Linked DNA regions of Homo sapiens. The protein of the gene in region 1 interacts with the protein of each later gene in a biochemical or structural test. Each region holds a gene or a part of one and is shown on either strand. Other genes may lie near its edges. The genes, in order: PDZD9, SLC15A5, MAP2K2 and ARHGEF16.

Region 1 (3,888 bases):
AATGTAGCTTCAACAGTAAATACAAGTCATGGACTGGCTACTGCCTAAGCAGTTCCTAAAGGCCTGGTGTGTGCAGACACCCAGCTAGGCACTGGGGGTGTAGTGGTGAACGGCACAGACATGGTCCTTAGCCTTGAGGAACTTAAGGAACTTCCAGCCTAGTTGGGAGAGATGAAAAAGATAAAATATTTTTCAGTAGTGGCTTGGCTGCTGCAAAGTTGATTTACTGTAGGTAATCGAGACAAAGTTTATATAATGTCATCCTATAGCCCATTAAAACAGAAAAAAAAAGGTGTAATGAGGTTGGTGTTCATAAGTACGAAATTGGTGTTTCTGTATGAAGGGCAATGTTAATATCTATTGCTAGAGTAATCACATTCACATGCTGACATGTTTGGTTTACAGCCAGAACGGTCAGGAAATTAAGCTGTTTATTTTCTGCCCTCTTGATAAAAGTCACACTTTTACAACATAATTAAGCAGAATGCCAAGCCATAGCTTTCAGCTATAAACACTGCTTTTAACATTAGGTAAGTAAGCTCATCCGGGGAGGGTTTTGTTTTTGTTTTGTTTTGTTTTGTTTTGCCATTGTAATTAACCTCAGTAGGATGAGCAGCTGTTTCATATTGCTCAAGCTGCAGGTAGCCTTGTTTCATTCTGAAGTGAGCTTCAGATACATGGTTGATTGTATTACCCCCAGCTACTGCTTAAGACCAAAGTAGAAGGTTTTTCTCCACCCTTGTAAGTATTTGTTTTCTGGAATTCTGGGAACTTTTGTTTCTGATAGGATCTAGAGCTATGGACATTTGTCCTTGGCATCCTTAGAGGCTTCTTTTGGGATCAGTGTAATTCCTGATTGAAGCCCAGTGCATGCATCAGAGAAGGCACTTCTTGACCCTTTTCTTCTTTGAGGTTAGGCTTCAGCTGTCTTAGAATGAGGCTGATTGAGGGTCTCCAGAAGGTCAGTACTAGTAAGATCTGAAGACTTAAGATTTTGCCCAATGTGAGCTGGTCCTTAAAAAGCAAATCCTTTGTATTCCTTTCTGAAGTCTTGCTGAATGCCGTTGTAGCAGCCAGGGTTCCTCATTGCAAAAAACAGAAAACACTTCTGTTAATGCACTGAATTTGGGATACTGAGTCTGACAGAATCTCCCAAAAGGCTGGAGAAGCAGGCTTGGAAAATGGTGAGAGAACCAAGAGCTGTGTGTAACTACCCCTAGCAACTAGAAGCTCCTGTCACTCTTTTGCATCTCCTCCTCCAGGTTCAGTGACCCAGGTGGGAGTGTCAAGTAGCTGGATCTCACTCACAGGTCCATGACCTAGCTGCTGGAGGTGGGGACATGGGGGAGGTTGGAGCAAGTGAAAAATTGGTCTTTTTAGCTTCCTTCAATTTGGGGGTTTCGGGGGTTAGTGCTCAAGATGTAGTCCTCTTCCCACCTGCCAGGGACTCGGAAGCTGCATGGTTGCCCATCTTGTTTCTTTCCTTATCCTGCGTTGCCCTAAGGTAGGGAAACCTAGCTGTCAAATCCCTTTAAACCAACATACTCACTGCATACACATCTTACAGTTAAAGCATGCCTAATTGCCCAATGTTTTATACAGAATTATTTGCTCAACTAATACTGCACAAGGGTAGAGAATTAAAATGAAAGGCTTTATGTTTAATATGGTCTATTAACTGTGGAGGGCACTGGAAATTGCCAGGCAGGTATAATAGAAAGTAGGTCATTTATTCACCACTTAGTGTAAGTGGTTTTTTCTTTTCTAGTAATAGCCATTCATTTTATCTGAAACTAATCTATTTTTAGAATCCTAACAGCTGGTTCCGATTATAAATGTTTTTTAGCCTCTGTCACACCAAGAACTTCAGAAACGTCTCAAAAACATCATATAATGTCTACCAATATACTGCTATTAAGAAACATCTTGCATACATTCTTCAGTATGCAAAGGACATTCATATCATGGACATGAACATCTTTATTAAATAAAGGCTGGGCCGGGTACGGTGGCTCATGCCTGTAATCCTAGCACTTTGGCAGGCCGAGGTGGACAGATCACCTGAGGTCAGGAGTTTGAGACCAGCCTGGCCAACATGGTGAAACCCCATCTCTACTAAAAAAAAAAAACAAAATTAGCCAGGCTTGATGGCACATGCCCATAATCCTAGCTACTTGGGAGGCTGAGGCAGGAGAACCACTTGAACCTGGGAGGCGGAGCTTGCAGTGAGCTGAGATCATGCCACTGCACTCCAGCATGGGTGACAGTTAGACTTCATCTCAAAAAAAAAAAAAAAAAAAAGGCTGAAGCCTGGTTTTGGTTCAAAAAGAATCAACAATATGAACCCATAAAATGAAATACCTCACAATAAAGCCAGAAATCAATATAGTCCCTTTAAACCTCTAGTTTTACTGATACATAATTTTTTCCCTCTTCAGGTGATGTTCTGATTAGTGTTGGCCATGCCAATGTGTTAGGATATACTCTTCGAGAATTTTTACAGCTTTTGCAACATATCACTATTGGAACAGTGCTACAAATCAAGGTTTACCGAGATTTTATTAACATTCCTGAAGAATGGCAAGAAATATATGATTTAATCCCTGAGGCCAAATTCCCAGTAACAAGGTAAATAGTTCATTTTAGGAACTCTTTGTTATAATACAGAATCCCAGGGCCTGTGAGGCATAGATGGTTTAATGTGACAATTATCAAATGATAAGGATCATGACAGGAGGACTGGTGACACTGTCAGAGTAATTTCCTGGGTTTCTGGTATTAGATCTGTAGGATCTAATATGAGAAAGCACGATGAAGTCAACCTGGAGTTAAAAAACAAGTCATCGGTTGGGAATTTTGTCCCCATGCCTACCTGTATGGTGCCCCTCTTTCCCGAGTCAGCCCTTAAAAATGCTTCTTGTGGGCCAGGTGTGGTGAATCATGCCTGTAATCCCAGCACTTTGGGAGGCTGAGGCGGGTGGATCATGAGGTCACGAAATCGAGACCATCCTGGCCAACATGGTGAAACCCCGTCTCTACTAGTAAATTACAAAAATTAGCTGGATGTGGTGGCGCGTGCCTGTAATTCCAGCTATTCGGGAGGCTGAGGCAGGAGAATCGCTCGAATCAGGGAGTCGGAGGTTGCAGTGAGCCGAGATCGCACCACTGCACTCCAGCCTGGAGATAGAGCGAGACTTTGTCTCAAAAAAAAAAAAAAAAAAAAAAAGTGCTTCTTGCAAATCCTATTTTCTTTTCCGTATTCAACTTTTTGTTCTCTGGGTCCTTCCCAATAACATCTAAGCCTTTTTAAACTTCTCCCATCTTGGCAAATCCTATCTTCAGTCCACTCTCCTCTCCCTACCCTCTTTAGCCACTGGAGTCTTTTGCATCCACTCCCAACTTGCTAAAAGCTGTATTAGACACCTCTGTTTCCTCGAAAGACGCCACTTCCCAGACACTCCTCCACCCACTTCAATCTAGGCTTTGCTTTCATCCCTTGGCTGAGTCCTTTTCCCAGGGCCACCCATAGCCTTCACACTTCTGATCCCACTAGATTCTTCTGTCTTTATCTTGCTTGGCTTCTGAGCAGCATTAGACACTTAACAATTTCCACCCACTCTCTTCTTGAAATAGCACTTCCCAGGCTTCTGTGACACCACACTCCCCTGATTTTCCTGTTACCTCTGGCCATTTCCTCTTGGTGTCCTTTCTCCTAGCCAGTTTCATTGATGCCTGTGGTTTCTATGACTATCCACATGCTAATTACTTTCAAACTGTATTATCACCAAAACTGTATTTTTTTTTTCTTGGAGACGAGGTTTTGCTCTTGTCACCCAGGCTGGAGTGTAGTGGCGTGACCTTGGCTCACTGCAACCTCTGCCTCTCGGG
Region 2 (3,888 bases), on another chromosome or scaffold:
TCTGGATATCCCGAGGGCAAACAAATGTTGAGGAAACATCTAATGTCCAGCACCTGTTGTTTCCTGACTTTTTAATGATCACCATTCTAACTGGTGTGAGATGATATCTCATTGTGGTTTTGATTTGCATTTCTCTGATGGCCCGTGATGATGAGCATTTTTTCATGTGTCTGTTGGCTGCATAAATGTCTTCTTTTGAGAAGTGTCTGTTCATATCCTTCACTCACTTTTTGATGGGGTTGTTTTTTTCTTGTAAATTTGTTTGAATTCTTTGTAGATTCTGGATATTAGCCCTTTGTCAGATGAGTAGATTGCAAAAATTTTCTCCCATTCTGTAGGTTGCCTGTTCACTCTGATGATAGTTTCTTTTGCTGTGCAGAAGCTCTTGAGTTTAATTAGATCCCATTTGCCAATTTTGGCTTTTGTTGCCATTGCTTTTGGTGTTTTAGACATGAAGTCCTTGCCCATGCCTATGTCCTGAATGGTATTGCCTATAGGAACACTTTTCCACTGTTGGTGGGACTGTAAACTAGTTCAACCATTGTGGAAGACAGTGTGGCCATTCCTCAGGGATCTAGAACTAGAAATACCATTTGACCCAACCATCCCATTACTGGGTATATACCCAAAGGAATATAAATCATGCTGCTATAAATACACATGCACATGTATGTTTATTGCGGCACTACTCACAATAGCAAAGACTTGGAACCAAACCAAATGTCCAACAATGATAGACTGGATTAAGAAAATGTGGCACATATACACCATGGAATACTATGCAGCCATAAAAAATCATGGGTTCATGTCCTTTGTAGGAACGTGGATGAAGCTGGAAACCATCATTCTCAGCAAACTATCATAAGGACAAAAAACCAAACACCGCATGTTCTCACTCATAGGTGGGAATTGAACAATGAGAATACTTGGACACAGGAAGGGGAACATCACACACCAGGGCCTGTTGTGGGGTGGGGGGAGGGGGGAGGAATAGCATTAGGAGATATACCTATTGTAAATGACGAGTTAATGGGTGCAGAACACCAACATGGCACATGTATACATATGTAACAAACCTGCACATTGTACACATGTACCCTAGAACTTAAAGTATAATAAAAAAATTAAAAAAAAATAAAAACAAACAAACAAAAAAGAAACATCTAATGTCAATGGGTAAGAAATGTTATGGCTTATTACATGAATCTCTAGCTCTTCGTTTAACTTTTTTTTCTTTTGCATTATTTTCCTTCAGTTGCTGGAAATCTTTTTGCTGCATTGTCTGTGATGATAGCTGGCTTCTTTGAAATACACCGAAAACATTTCCCTGCAGTGGAGCAGCCCCTTTCAGGAAAAGTTCTCACTGTTTCCTCCATGCCCTGTTTCTACCTGATTCTTCAGTATGTTTTACTTGGAGTGGCGGAAACACTGGTAAACCCAGCCCGTGAGTAAACACCTTTTCAACTAATGTTAGAACATACTGAACCTTTACACAGAACACATCACCTCAACCAGAACAATTAAAGTGGTATGTCATCTATTCACCTCCTAGAGAGTTCCCACAATACTTCCAGCAAATTTATTTATTACTTTTTTACAAACATTTCATTTCTCCTCATTCCTCTGCCATGCACAGAACAATTATCAATTCTGCCTGGATGCAGATGGAACAAAAGATTTTTAATCTGGTTAAAGGCAATAACCATTTTGTCAGACACACCACAGGAGGAAAACCTCTGCTAAAACCCAGAAGACAACTCCAGAACACTAAGATGTAAAGCCTCTTCTCTTCTCCCTTCCCTCCTCTCACCTCCCCGACTCTCACTCATAGATAAACTCACAGGCCGGGTGCGGTGGCTCACGCCTGTAATCCCAGCACTTTGGGAGGCCAAGGCAGGTGGATCACGAGGTCAAGAGATCAAGACCATCCTGGCCAACATGGTGAAACCCTGTCTCTACTAAAAATACAAAAAATTAGCCAGGTGTGGTGGCAGGCGCCTGTAGTCCCAGCTACTCAAGGAGGCTGAGGCAGGAGAATCACTTGAACCCGGGAGGCGGAGGTTGCAGTGAGCCGAGATTGTGCCGCTGCACTCCAGCCTGGTGACAGAGTGAGACTCCATCTCAAAAAAAAAAAAAGCTCATTTATACTCCTCCAAAAATGACACTTAATGTTCTTTGAGAGTATATAAACATGCAAATGAAATGAAAATTTAAGCCAATTTTCCAGATAACTTGATGTCTTTGAATTAAATTACACTAGATTAAATGAGATCACTAATGTTTCATAAGACAGGTTCAAAATAAGTTTATTAAATATCAAGGGTTTCTGAATTATCTAGATTGCTTATATTAATTAAACTAGCCACTTTACAATTTATCACAATATTTCAGTGGCTTCTTGCAATACAGTAATGTGTGTGTACATCTATTTATCTCTGTAATTGATTACATCTTATGTTTCTATCCTCCTTAAATTTTCGTGTAGTAGGAGTCCTGATTGTAACTCAAGCTCCCATTATATTTTATGGATAATATTTTTATAACTTCTAACTATCTTCCGACCTCCATTATCTCTCCCATTCTATCAACTGGCACATGGATTTTAGAGTAATCATCCTAAATAACAATTCTAACCATTCCATCTGTGTCTACAATCTTCAATGATTCTATTATCTTAAAAGTTGTTTCCAAACTCCTTAAAATAAATATTTAATAAATATGTATTTATACACACACATACTTATGATACCAAGGCAATTCATTAAATAATGAAAATAAAATTAAGTTGGAGTATATGCATATATATGTGTGTCTCAGACTTCTTTTTTTATAATTGTATATCATTTCATCCCATATATTTTGCATACATAAATTACTTTATGAGATTTTAAACTGGGGACCTCACTGTTTAACACTGCAAGGAAGACAAAAGAAGTGTAAAGCAATGCTACTACACAAATATTTGTGATCTTCTCTGATGTTATTCCCAAAAATGTGTTGGAAGTAGTCAGCCAAAATTTTCTGGGCTGGTATAGAGTAAATAATGAGTAAAAGTAATGAGTGAATATGTGGAGGAAATTGCTAGCCAGCTTAGCAATAGTGGTTCAACATTCAGAAGCCAGAGAGGTACAGAAAACCAATGACTGTGAAAAAGGCAGATCATGTGCTACACATCACTTACTCCACCACTCCCTGATTTACTCCAGGAAATCAGGCCTAACTGAGGTCTAAGTCACTTGACTCATCTGCTATTGGGATAATGGACCAGGGACTGAAAGAATTTGGTCTGATATCTAGCTTTTCCATTACTACCTACATAAATTTGGGAACTCATTTAACCTCCAATCCTCACTTTTCTGATATTTAAAATAGAAATAATTGTATTCTTCTTTATATCACAGCATTGATAGGGTAAGCATCAATGGGAATGAGAGACTACTCCTTGAAAATCAAATGACATAACATATGAAAGGGTATTTCAAACTATAAAATCAAGTATTACCTTTCTGGGAGACAGTACAGCACAGAGGTTAGGCTCTATGGTCTTAAAGTCAGACAGATCTGAATTCAAACCCAGTTCTGTCACTGACTAACTCTGTGACGTTGGGAAAATTATTCCTCATTTCTGGGCTTTTCTCATCATCTATAAAACAGGGAGTTGTTCAAAGGACTAAGTGGAAGATTTTATGTAAAGCAAAAACCGCAGTGCCCCGTATATAGACAGCATTCAATAATTAGCAGTTATAATGTGTTGTTATCATTACTAAAAGTAATGGCAAAAACCACAATTACTTTTTCACCAACCTAATATTATTATCATGTTTCACATGAATTAATAGTGTCAGACTCAGAACAGAAGCACAGGTGTCCTGTTCCCAGCTCTTTCTG
Region 3 (3,888 bases), on another chromosome or scaffold:
TCATGGATCAGAAACTGACAGCTCCCAAGCTGGATGTAGCCAAGAGTCACGTGCAGCCCACACTGCGCTTCCAAACATCCTGAATTAGGTGTTGTCAAAAATTGGAAGAGAGCCGGGGCAGTGGCTCACATCTGTAATTCCAGTGCTTTGGGAGGCTGAGGCGGGAGGATCGCTTCAGGCCAGGAGTTCAACACTGGGCAGCGTAGCAAGCCTTCATCTCTACAAGAGATTTTAAAAATTAACACACAGGCTGGGAGCGGTGGCCAGCTAGGGGACCGCAGTGCAGTGGATCTGGAGGCTCAGCCCCGGCAGCTGCTCCCAAGTCCGAGCAGATCCAAGAGGGTTCGAATCCGATTCAGGCACTGACCCCACACAGCCTCGGTTTCTTCAACTGTAAAACGAGGCTGCTGTTCAATTTTAATGAGAACACGCGTCAAAGGTGTTGGCAGCGGCTTCGACTCAGGTCGTCACTTGTGAGACAGCAGCTGGTACTGTGAGGTGGCCTTGGGCAGGCCGTGTGACCGCCACCCTGGAAGTAAGCTACAGCGGAGTGGAGGAACTCAGAGGCGAGAACAAACACTCTCATCTCTGCTATGAGCATGGACAATTCAAAGAAGCCCCACACGCGTAACAAGCAGCAAGTTCTTCACCTATCTCCCTGGCCCAGGTAACGCGGGGACGCTGCTCCAATGGGAGAGGGGTCAGAGGCCACGGTCAAGCCAAAAAGACATTTACAAACCAGCATGACCTCAAATACCGAGACTGGGCCAGGCGCGGTGGCTCACGCCTGTAATCCCAGCAATCTGGGAGGCCAAGATGCATGGATTCCTTGAGGTCAGATGTTTGAGACCAGCCTGGCCAACATGGTGAAACCCCGTCTCTACTAAAAATACAAACATTAGCCAGGCATGCCAGCCACTCAGGAGGCTAAGGGAGGAGAATCGCTTGAACCTGTGAGGTGGAGGTTGCAGTGAGCCGAGATTGTGCCACTGCACTCCAGTCTGGGTGACAGAGCGAGACTCTGTCTCAAAAAAATAAATAAATAAAAATAAGTAAATAAATAAGATGAAATGAAAGGAGCCCTTGCAGCCCTACCTGCATAGCAGCCAGAGCCGCTGAGCCCACGAGCTCAATGCATCCTCTCCCACCCGAGTTTTCGGGCACTTTAAAGAAAACCTAATTTTGAAAGAATTATAGAAGCACAGGAAGTTGCAAAAATAGTAACGAGAGTCCCGTGCGCCCTTTCCCCGCCTCCCCCAAGATGACTGACATCTTACATGACGGAAGGACAGTACTGACACCCAGAGCTGATGCTGGGACATCTCCACCCACCAGACCACAGAACCTGCCCAGCCACGCCTGCCCTCAGGTTCAAAGGCCCCGATCTCCCTTTCCCCGCTACAGTAAAGCTGCAGGTGGGCCCGGCTTCACCTGCGCCTGTCAGCAGGAGCAGGAGCTGCTGATACAGCAAGCATTGGGTTCATGTCCACTGCCCAGCCCATCAGGGACCACTGGAGGCTCCCCCAGAAGCCTGAGGGTCCCTGGCACACACGAGGACTGGCACTGTCTCAAGGCCCTGCTGTGGCTGTGTGAACCACACGCTTGCCTTTTTCCACCCAGTGCTTCGGGCGGAGGCGGACCTGAGCTTTCCAAGGCTGCTCCGGTTTGGAAGAGGCTGCCTGCAGTACGGGGACAGAAATAGCAAGTCCGCGGCTGCACACTTCAGGAGGGAGGGAGGGCAGCACTCTAGAGGCCAGAAGACAGAGCTGCAGAGCTAAATCCCCGCAGGAGTTGAGCCGCTGCTCCCGAGGAAGGCAGGGCCCTCAAGCACTGCTGCCACCTGCGCAGACCCACGGGACTAGGTGCAGTCACGTTCCCCCAGTTTGGGGAACTACAGGATGGTGGGCTTCCAGGAAGAGGCAGCGTTCTAGGTCTGAAAGAACACCGGTGAGGAGCTGAACACCCTGTCAACACTAAGTCCCCTACTTCTGTGTTTAAGAGCCACTGTCCCCAAGTGGTCACATCCTCCCTGTATCCCCTGGGCACTATTCTCAAACACAGAGCACAGAGGCTGCATCATGGCCCAGGAGCCCGGGATGACTAAGCACGGGGGCCGTCAGCACCAGGGCTTGCAGACTTTCAAAGGGTGGGTGACAGTCAGCTTTGTGTGTCTCCTCGGTGAGACCACGGTGCCCAGTTGTCAAACGCCAGTCTAGAGGTTGCTGGGAAGGTATGTTTTTAAGATGTGATTAACCTTTAAATTGGCAGACTCTGAGCAAAGCAGATTACTCCACCCCAGGGTGGGTGAGTCTCAGCCAATCAGCTGAAGGCCTTCAGGGAAAAGCCTGCCCAGGCGCGGTGGCTCATGCCTGTAATCCTAGCACTTTGGGAGGCCGAGGCAAGAGGATCACTTGAGGTCAGGAGTTCGAGACCAGCCTGGCCAACACGGTGAACCCCATCTCTACTAAAAAAACAAAAATTAACTGGGTGTGGTGGCATGCACCTGTAATCCCAGCTACTCGGGAGGCTGAGGCAGGAGAATCCCTTGAACCCAGGAGGTAGAGGTTGCAGTGAGCCAAGATCGCACCACTGCACTCCAGCCAATTCCTTAGAATAAATCTCTCTCTACACATACACTCAAGTATCATTAAGGACAGGGATACACTGAGAAATCCCTCTCTGGGCGATGTCGTCACTGTGCAAACACTGGAAAGCCCATTCCACACCCAGGCTCCCATGCTCTGTACAGCGCAGTGCTGAGCTGCTGTCTGTTTATTTAAATATAGAGAACCGAGGCAGGCGGATCACCTGGGGTCAAGAGTTCCAGACCAGCCTGGCCAACATGGCGAAACCCTGCCTCTACTAAAAACACAAAAAAATGAGCTGGGCCTGGTGGTGTGTGCCTGTAATCCCAGCTACTCGGGAGGCTGAGGCAAGAGAATCCTTGAACCCAGGAGGCGGAGGTTGAAGTGAGCCAAGATCATGCCACTGCACTCCAGCCTGGGCAACAGAGCAAGACCCCGTCTCAAAAAGTAAAAATAAAAATAAAAATAAACATACAGAAGGCACAGCAAAAACATGGCCTGATCATCTTACGTCGCCACCGCTGCGTAGGCGGTCTGTCACTGGCTGAGCCATCGCCCTGAGGTGGCTGTACACATAGGCGCAAACACACACACGCTTCGTCTTCATCGCTTGTTTCTCTGGAGAACCATAACACACTCGCATTTCTGAAACCCCCACGTGCTAGCTTTCTGGGAATATGGATTTCAAGTGCCCTCCAGGGCAGAAAGTAGTCACTGGAGGGCACAGCTGTGTGTGGCTGGTGTGGCTGGCACGGCTCCCATCTGCCCAGAAGCTGGGCCCTTTCTCAGGACCTAGAGTCCCTGGTGGGGATGAGGGACAGAGCCTGGAGCTAATCAGAATGCAGAGACCCGGCTGCCTTCCCAACCTGCCTCCTGTTTCCAGGGGGACCTTCCCCACCACTCCCCGACCTCCCCGACCCCGCAGTGCTCACCTTCCTGGCCATGATGAGGCCCGAGGGTCTGTGCTGGACTTTGGTGACCACCCCGCCGTTGCCCGCGCCCAGCTCTGAGATCCTTTCGAAGTCATCGTCTTTGAGTTCGCCGACCTTGGCTTTCTGGGTGAGAAAGGCTTCCAGCCGCTTCTTCTGCTGCTCGTCAAGTTCCAGCTCCTCCAGCTTCTTCTGCAGGTCCACCAGGTTTGCCCTGCAGAGACCCCCCAGGGTAGGGGTTAGCTACCTAGGGAGACTCCATCTGGCCGTTTGCTATGTGGCCGTGGTGCATCGGCCCCCAGGAGGACACAGACTGGATTCCTGCACTTGAGGGGTTCATGGTGTAGAAGGAAAGGATCCATGCTGTGTACCCC
Region 4 (3,888 bases), on another chromosome or scaffold:
CCTTCCTGGGATGGTTTTAGCAGAGAATTTGTGTCCTGGGAGAGTTTGGTGGCTCCCGGGGCTGAGCAGGGACAGAGGGGTGTCCCAGGTGCCCTGTGGACACTCCAAAGGTGCTAATCCAGGTCAGTTGTGTGGCTGACTGTAGGCAACCTCCCTGCAGGAAGTGACTTTGGGCGAGTGACTCAGCCTTGTTTTCCCATCAGAAAAATCAGTTTCCACCCGCAAGAGACTCCGGTCATTTTCATGTGTGTGACGTTCTGGGTGTATAGGAGGCATACTGAGTGGTGGTGGTTATTGTTTTTATCTTTATTTTTTAAAAGGGAAAGAATGAAAGCAGCGAGTTTTCTCCATGTCGTTACCTTTTGAACCTACGAAGCTCCCTGAGCATAGGGAGCATGAGCTTGTCTGTGATTCGGCAAGGCCTTGGTCACTGCGGCGCAGACGCAGGCCTCACACCGGCCAGGCCTGTTACACGCTTTGCACGCTTTACACTTCCCACCGTACCTTCAGGAGGTGGGCCTTGCTCTTATCATGCCCATTTTGCAGATTTTGAAACTGAGGCACGGAGAGGCAGCGTCACTTGCTCATTGACCACATGCCTGGGTCAGGGCTGCTCCCTGACACGTGTGGGGAGCCCCTGAGCAGCAGAGGGGAAAGCTGGGAGGCCTGAGAGACCAGACCCTCGGAATCCATTGCTCAGTGGCCTGAGGGTTGCAAGTGCCCAGGGGGGTTGCAAGCAGCCCGGGGCGTGAAAGCTCACTGTGGGCCTGACCGCTGTGGCCGAGCAATGCGCCGTCACTCAGGAGGTGATGTGTAGCCACAACAGCCCCGCAAAGTGCCTGGAAACAGACCTCTGGGCCCGGCTCCTGGAGGCCGTGTCGGCTGGGGGCTCTGCACATCTCGGTCACACGGGGTCCAGGCCATTGAGGCTCTGCCTGGCCACGCGTGCCTATAGTCATGGCAGCCAGGGAAGACGCAGAGGCAGGTCGAGAGCTGGCTCTCCACATTCCTACCTGGCAGGCACGTATGTCCCAAAGCCAGTCTCAGGACTGTGCCATTCCCAAGGGGCAGAAGGGCAGCCCTGCCTCGGGTCTGGAAGGAGGAAAGTGAGAAATGGGAAGCAGTAGTGTCAGGGGCAGGGTGCCAGCCCCGGACCATGAAGGGAACAGTGGGGTAGAGATGGGCTCGGGGGCACGCGCTGCCAGGAGGGGCGGGCAGGAGTGTGGCGGGGGCGGGGCAGCCCACGGGGTGTGGGGATCGGGCTACAGAGATGTCTACAGGGCAGCTCCCGCTCTCTGCTGGGGGGTGTACGTGGGACTGTGGGCTGCCACCCCTGCCACCACCACACCTGCCCAGTGGCCAGGTGTCATACTGGACTCTCGGGCTGGTGACTGGTGGGGCTCCTGAGACCAGAATTGTCAGCTTTATGCCCAGTTCAGAAACGTGGAAAAATGCAAGCGTGTTGCCTGGTGTGTGGAAAGGTTCCATGGACAGTCCGCGACAGTCATATCACTGTGTGGCTAAGAGAGGGGAATCACACAGGCCTGGGCTCGGGCCGGGAGCATGTGGGCAAATGCACCTGCCCTCCCCCCAACCCAGCAGAGCCTGGCTCAGGTGCCTGGAAGACCCCAATGAGGCAGAGGCTGTGGTCACTGCCGCTGTGGCTGATGCCGGCCTCAGGAAGCCCCCCAGTGCAACGCCATGACCCTTGCGTTCACCACGAGGAAGTGGTTCCAGGAGGCTGCATGGCTGCCAGGTGTGAGCCAGGATTCCAGGCCAGGTCTTCAGGGCTCCAGGGCCATGCACCTGAGCTGCCCCACCTGCCTCCAGGCTCAGGAATGTGTCCTCAGTGCGTGCTGCCCATCAGAGGAAGCAGTGTGGCCTCCCAACCTCCAAGGTCCAGCCTACCCCCATAGGCTGTGCCCACCTGGTCCCTTGGAGCTCGGAGAACCAGCGCCTGCCCAGTCCCATCCTGTGTCCAGCCTCCGGCCTCAGACATGGCTGGCTCCCAGTGGTCAGGACTGGCTGTGCCACTGATCCACTGTGCTCCTGGCTGCGTCGCTGTCCTTGCCTGCTGTGTCCTGGGAGCTGTACTGGAGCCCCGGCCAGACATATGCAAAGGGGTAGGGGGGTGGACACCCGCGGGGGCAGGGGAGAGCAGCCTCACGAGACCTCACTTCTGCCCTTCCCCCAGGACCCCACAGCCGCCCAGCATGGCCCAGCGGCACTCAGACAGCTCCTTGGAGGAGAAGCTCCTGGGACACCGCTTCCACTCGGAGCTCCGGCTCGATGCCGGGGGGAACCCAGCCTCCGGGCTCCCAATGGTCCGTGGCTCCCCGCGTGTTAGAGACGATGCCGCCTTCCAGCCCCAGGTCCCGGCACCCCCACAGCCTCGGCCCCCGGGGCACGAGGAGCCATGGCCCATCGTCCTGAGCACAGAGAGCCCGGCGGCCCTCAAGCTGGGCACCCAACAGCTGATCCCTAAGAGCCTGGCTGTGGCCAGCAAGGCAAAGACCCCAGCCCGCCACCAGAGCTTCGGGGCGGCTGTACTTAGCAGGGAGGCCGCCCGGCGGGACCCTAAGCTCCTCCCAGCCCCCAGCTTCTCCCTGGATGACATGGACGTGGACAAGGACCCCGGGGGCATGCTGAGGCGGAACCTGCGGAACCAATCCTACCGGGCGGCCATGAAGGGCCTGGGGAAGCCAGGTGGCCAGGGAGATGCCATCCAGCTAAGCCCTAAGCTCCAGGCTCTGGCTGAGGAACCCAGCCAGCCTCATACTCGGAGCCCGGCCAAAAACAAGGTAGGGGCCTGCTCGTGTGGACCGTGGGGAGGGGGCTGCTAGGCAGAGGGGCGGCCTGGCCGTCTCCACCACCGTCATCTTCTGCATCATGGCAGCTGCCGTTAGTAAGCACCTGCTGCATGAGGGCTCTCGACTGGTTTATTCCAGTTCAGCCCAGTCTGTGAGTGTGAAGATCCCACCTTACAGATGAGGCAGCAGAGGCTCGGAAAGGTCGAGGGTTCTACCGAGGCCCCCAGACTCTGGTGTCCCCGCTCCCAGCCTTGGTGGAGGGCAGATCCCTGGAAGGGCCCAGTCCCTGTTTCCGAGCTCTGGACAGGAGCCGGCCTGCCTGGATGATAGGGTTCAGGGTGACCTGGCTGCAGTGACTGGCCTGGGCTCCATCTGCCCCGGCAGCTCCAGACAGGGACTCAGGCGGGAGGGACTGAAGCGGGGCAGCTGTGCGGTGGCCTGGGGCTTAGGAGAAGTCTGCACATTCCCTCTGTACACAGAGCCCTGCTTCCCTGCCTGCTGGTGGTGGCTCTAGGTCTGGGGCATGGTGGCGGCAGACCCTTTGCTGGGCAGGGTGTAGCCTGACTGCATGTGTCACTAGGGCCCAGGGGACAGAGCGTCCAGCTGGGGCTCCTGGGCCCAGTGTCCCTCATCCTCGGAGTCACCATCCCCTGCGGCTGGGGGCCAGGCCTTCATTTCAGGCAGCCCTGGAGCTGGAAGCCACGTTCAGGGAGAGTTGCGTGGTACCTGGACACCCACCCAGCCAGGACTGCGACTCTGGCCACCCTGCTTGGTCTCTTTAGCTGGTGGGTCTGGGCTCAGGCAGGGCTGGGGTAGGGGAGGCGAGCTGCCCTGGAACCGCCCATCAGGAGGCCCTGGCAGCCCGAGCACCCTCAAGAATGCAGAGCAGATGCAGGGCTGGCCCCAGGGGCGTCCTTCTTGTTGGGCGCCTTGCTCAGACGTGTTGGAAAACAGGCCCCAAGCATATGGGCTGCCTCAGTGAAGGACGAGGGCGGGGGCAGGTGCTGTGTGACCCAGATGAGTTCCTGAACCTTCCTGAGCCTTGGCTTCCCCATGTGGAAGCAAAGATCACAGCCGC

Evidence for each region.
Region 2: the proteins of PDZD9 (region 1) and SLC15A5 interact in a test that uses a peptide from one of them, tested with the Homo sapiens proteins (one large-scale study listed by IntAct).
Region 3: the proteins of PDZD9 (region 1) and MAP2K2 interact in a test that uses a peptide from one of them, tested with the Homo sapiens proteins (one large-scale study listed by IntAct).
Region 4: the proteins of PDZD9 (region 1) and ARHGEF16 interact in a test that uses a peptide from one of them, tested with the Homo sapiens proteins (one large-scale study listed by IntAct).

Annotation. Positions count from the first base shown.
Region 1 is NC_000016.10:21,987,342-21,991,229, reverse strand, and holds part of PDZD9 (PDZ domain-containing protein 9), read left to right. Parts: intron 1-2,438; coding exon 2,439-2,628; intron 2,629-3,888.
Region 2 is NC_000012.12:16,221,970-16,225,857, reverse strand, and holds part of SLC15A5 (solute carrier family 15 member 5), read left to right. Parts: intron 1-1,255; coding exon 1,256-1,444; intron 1,445-3,888. UniProt on the Homo sapiens protein: Proton oligopeptide cotransporter.
Region 3 is NC_000019.10:4,113,902-4,117,789, forward strand, and holds part of MAP2K2 (dual specificity mitogen-activated protein kinase kinase 2), read right to left. Parts: intron 3,729-3,888; coding exon 3,518-3,728; intron 1-3,517. UniProt on the Homo sapiens protein: Catalyzes the concomitant phosphorylation of a threonine and a tyrosine residue in a Thr-Glu-Tyr sequence located in MAP kinases. Activates the ERK1 and ERK2 MAP kinases.
Region 4 is NC_000001.11:3,460,872-3,464,759, forward strand, and holds part of ARHGEF16 (rho guanine nucleotide exchange factor 16), read left to right. Parts: intron 1-2,194; coding exon of another isoform or gene 2,195-2,213; coding exon 2,214-2,801; intron 2,802-3,888. UniProt on the Homo sapiens protein: Guanyl-nucleotide exchange factor of the RHOG GTPase stimulating the exchange of RHOG-associated GDP for GTP. May play a role in chemotactic cell migration by mediating the activation of RAC1 by EPHA2.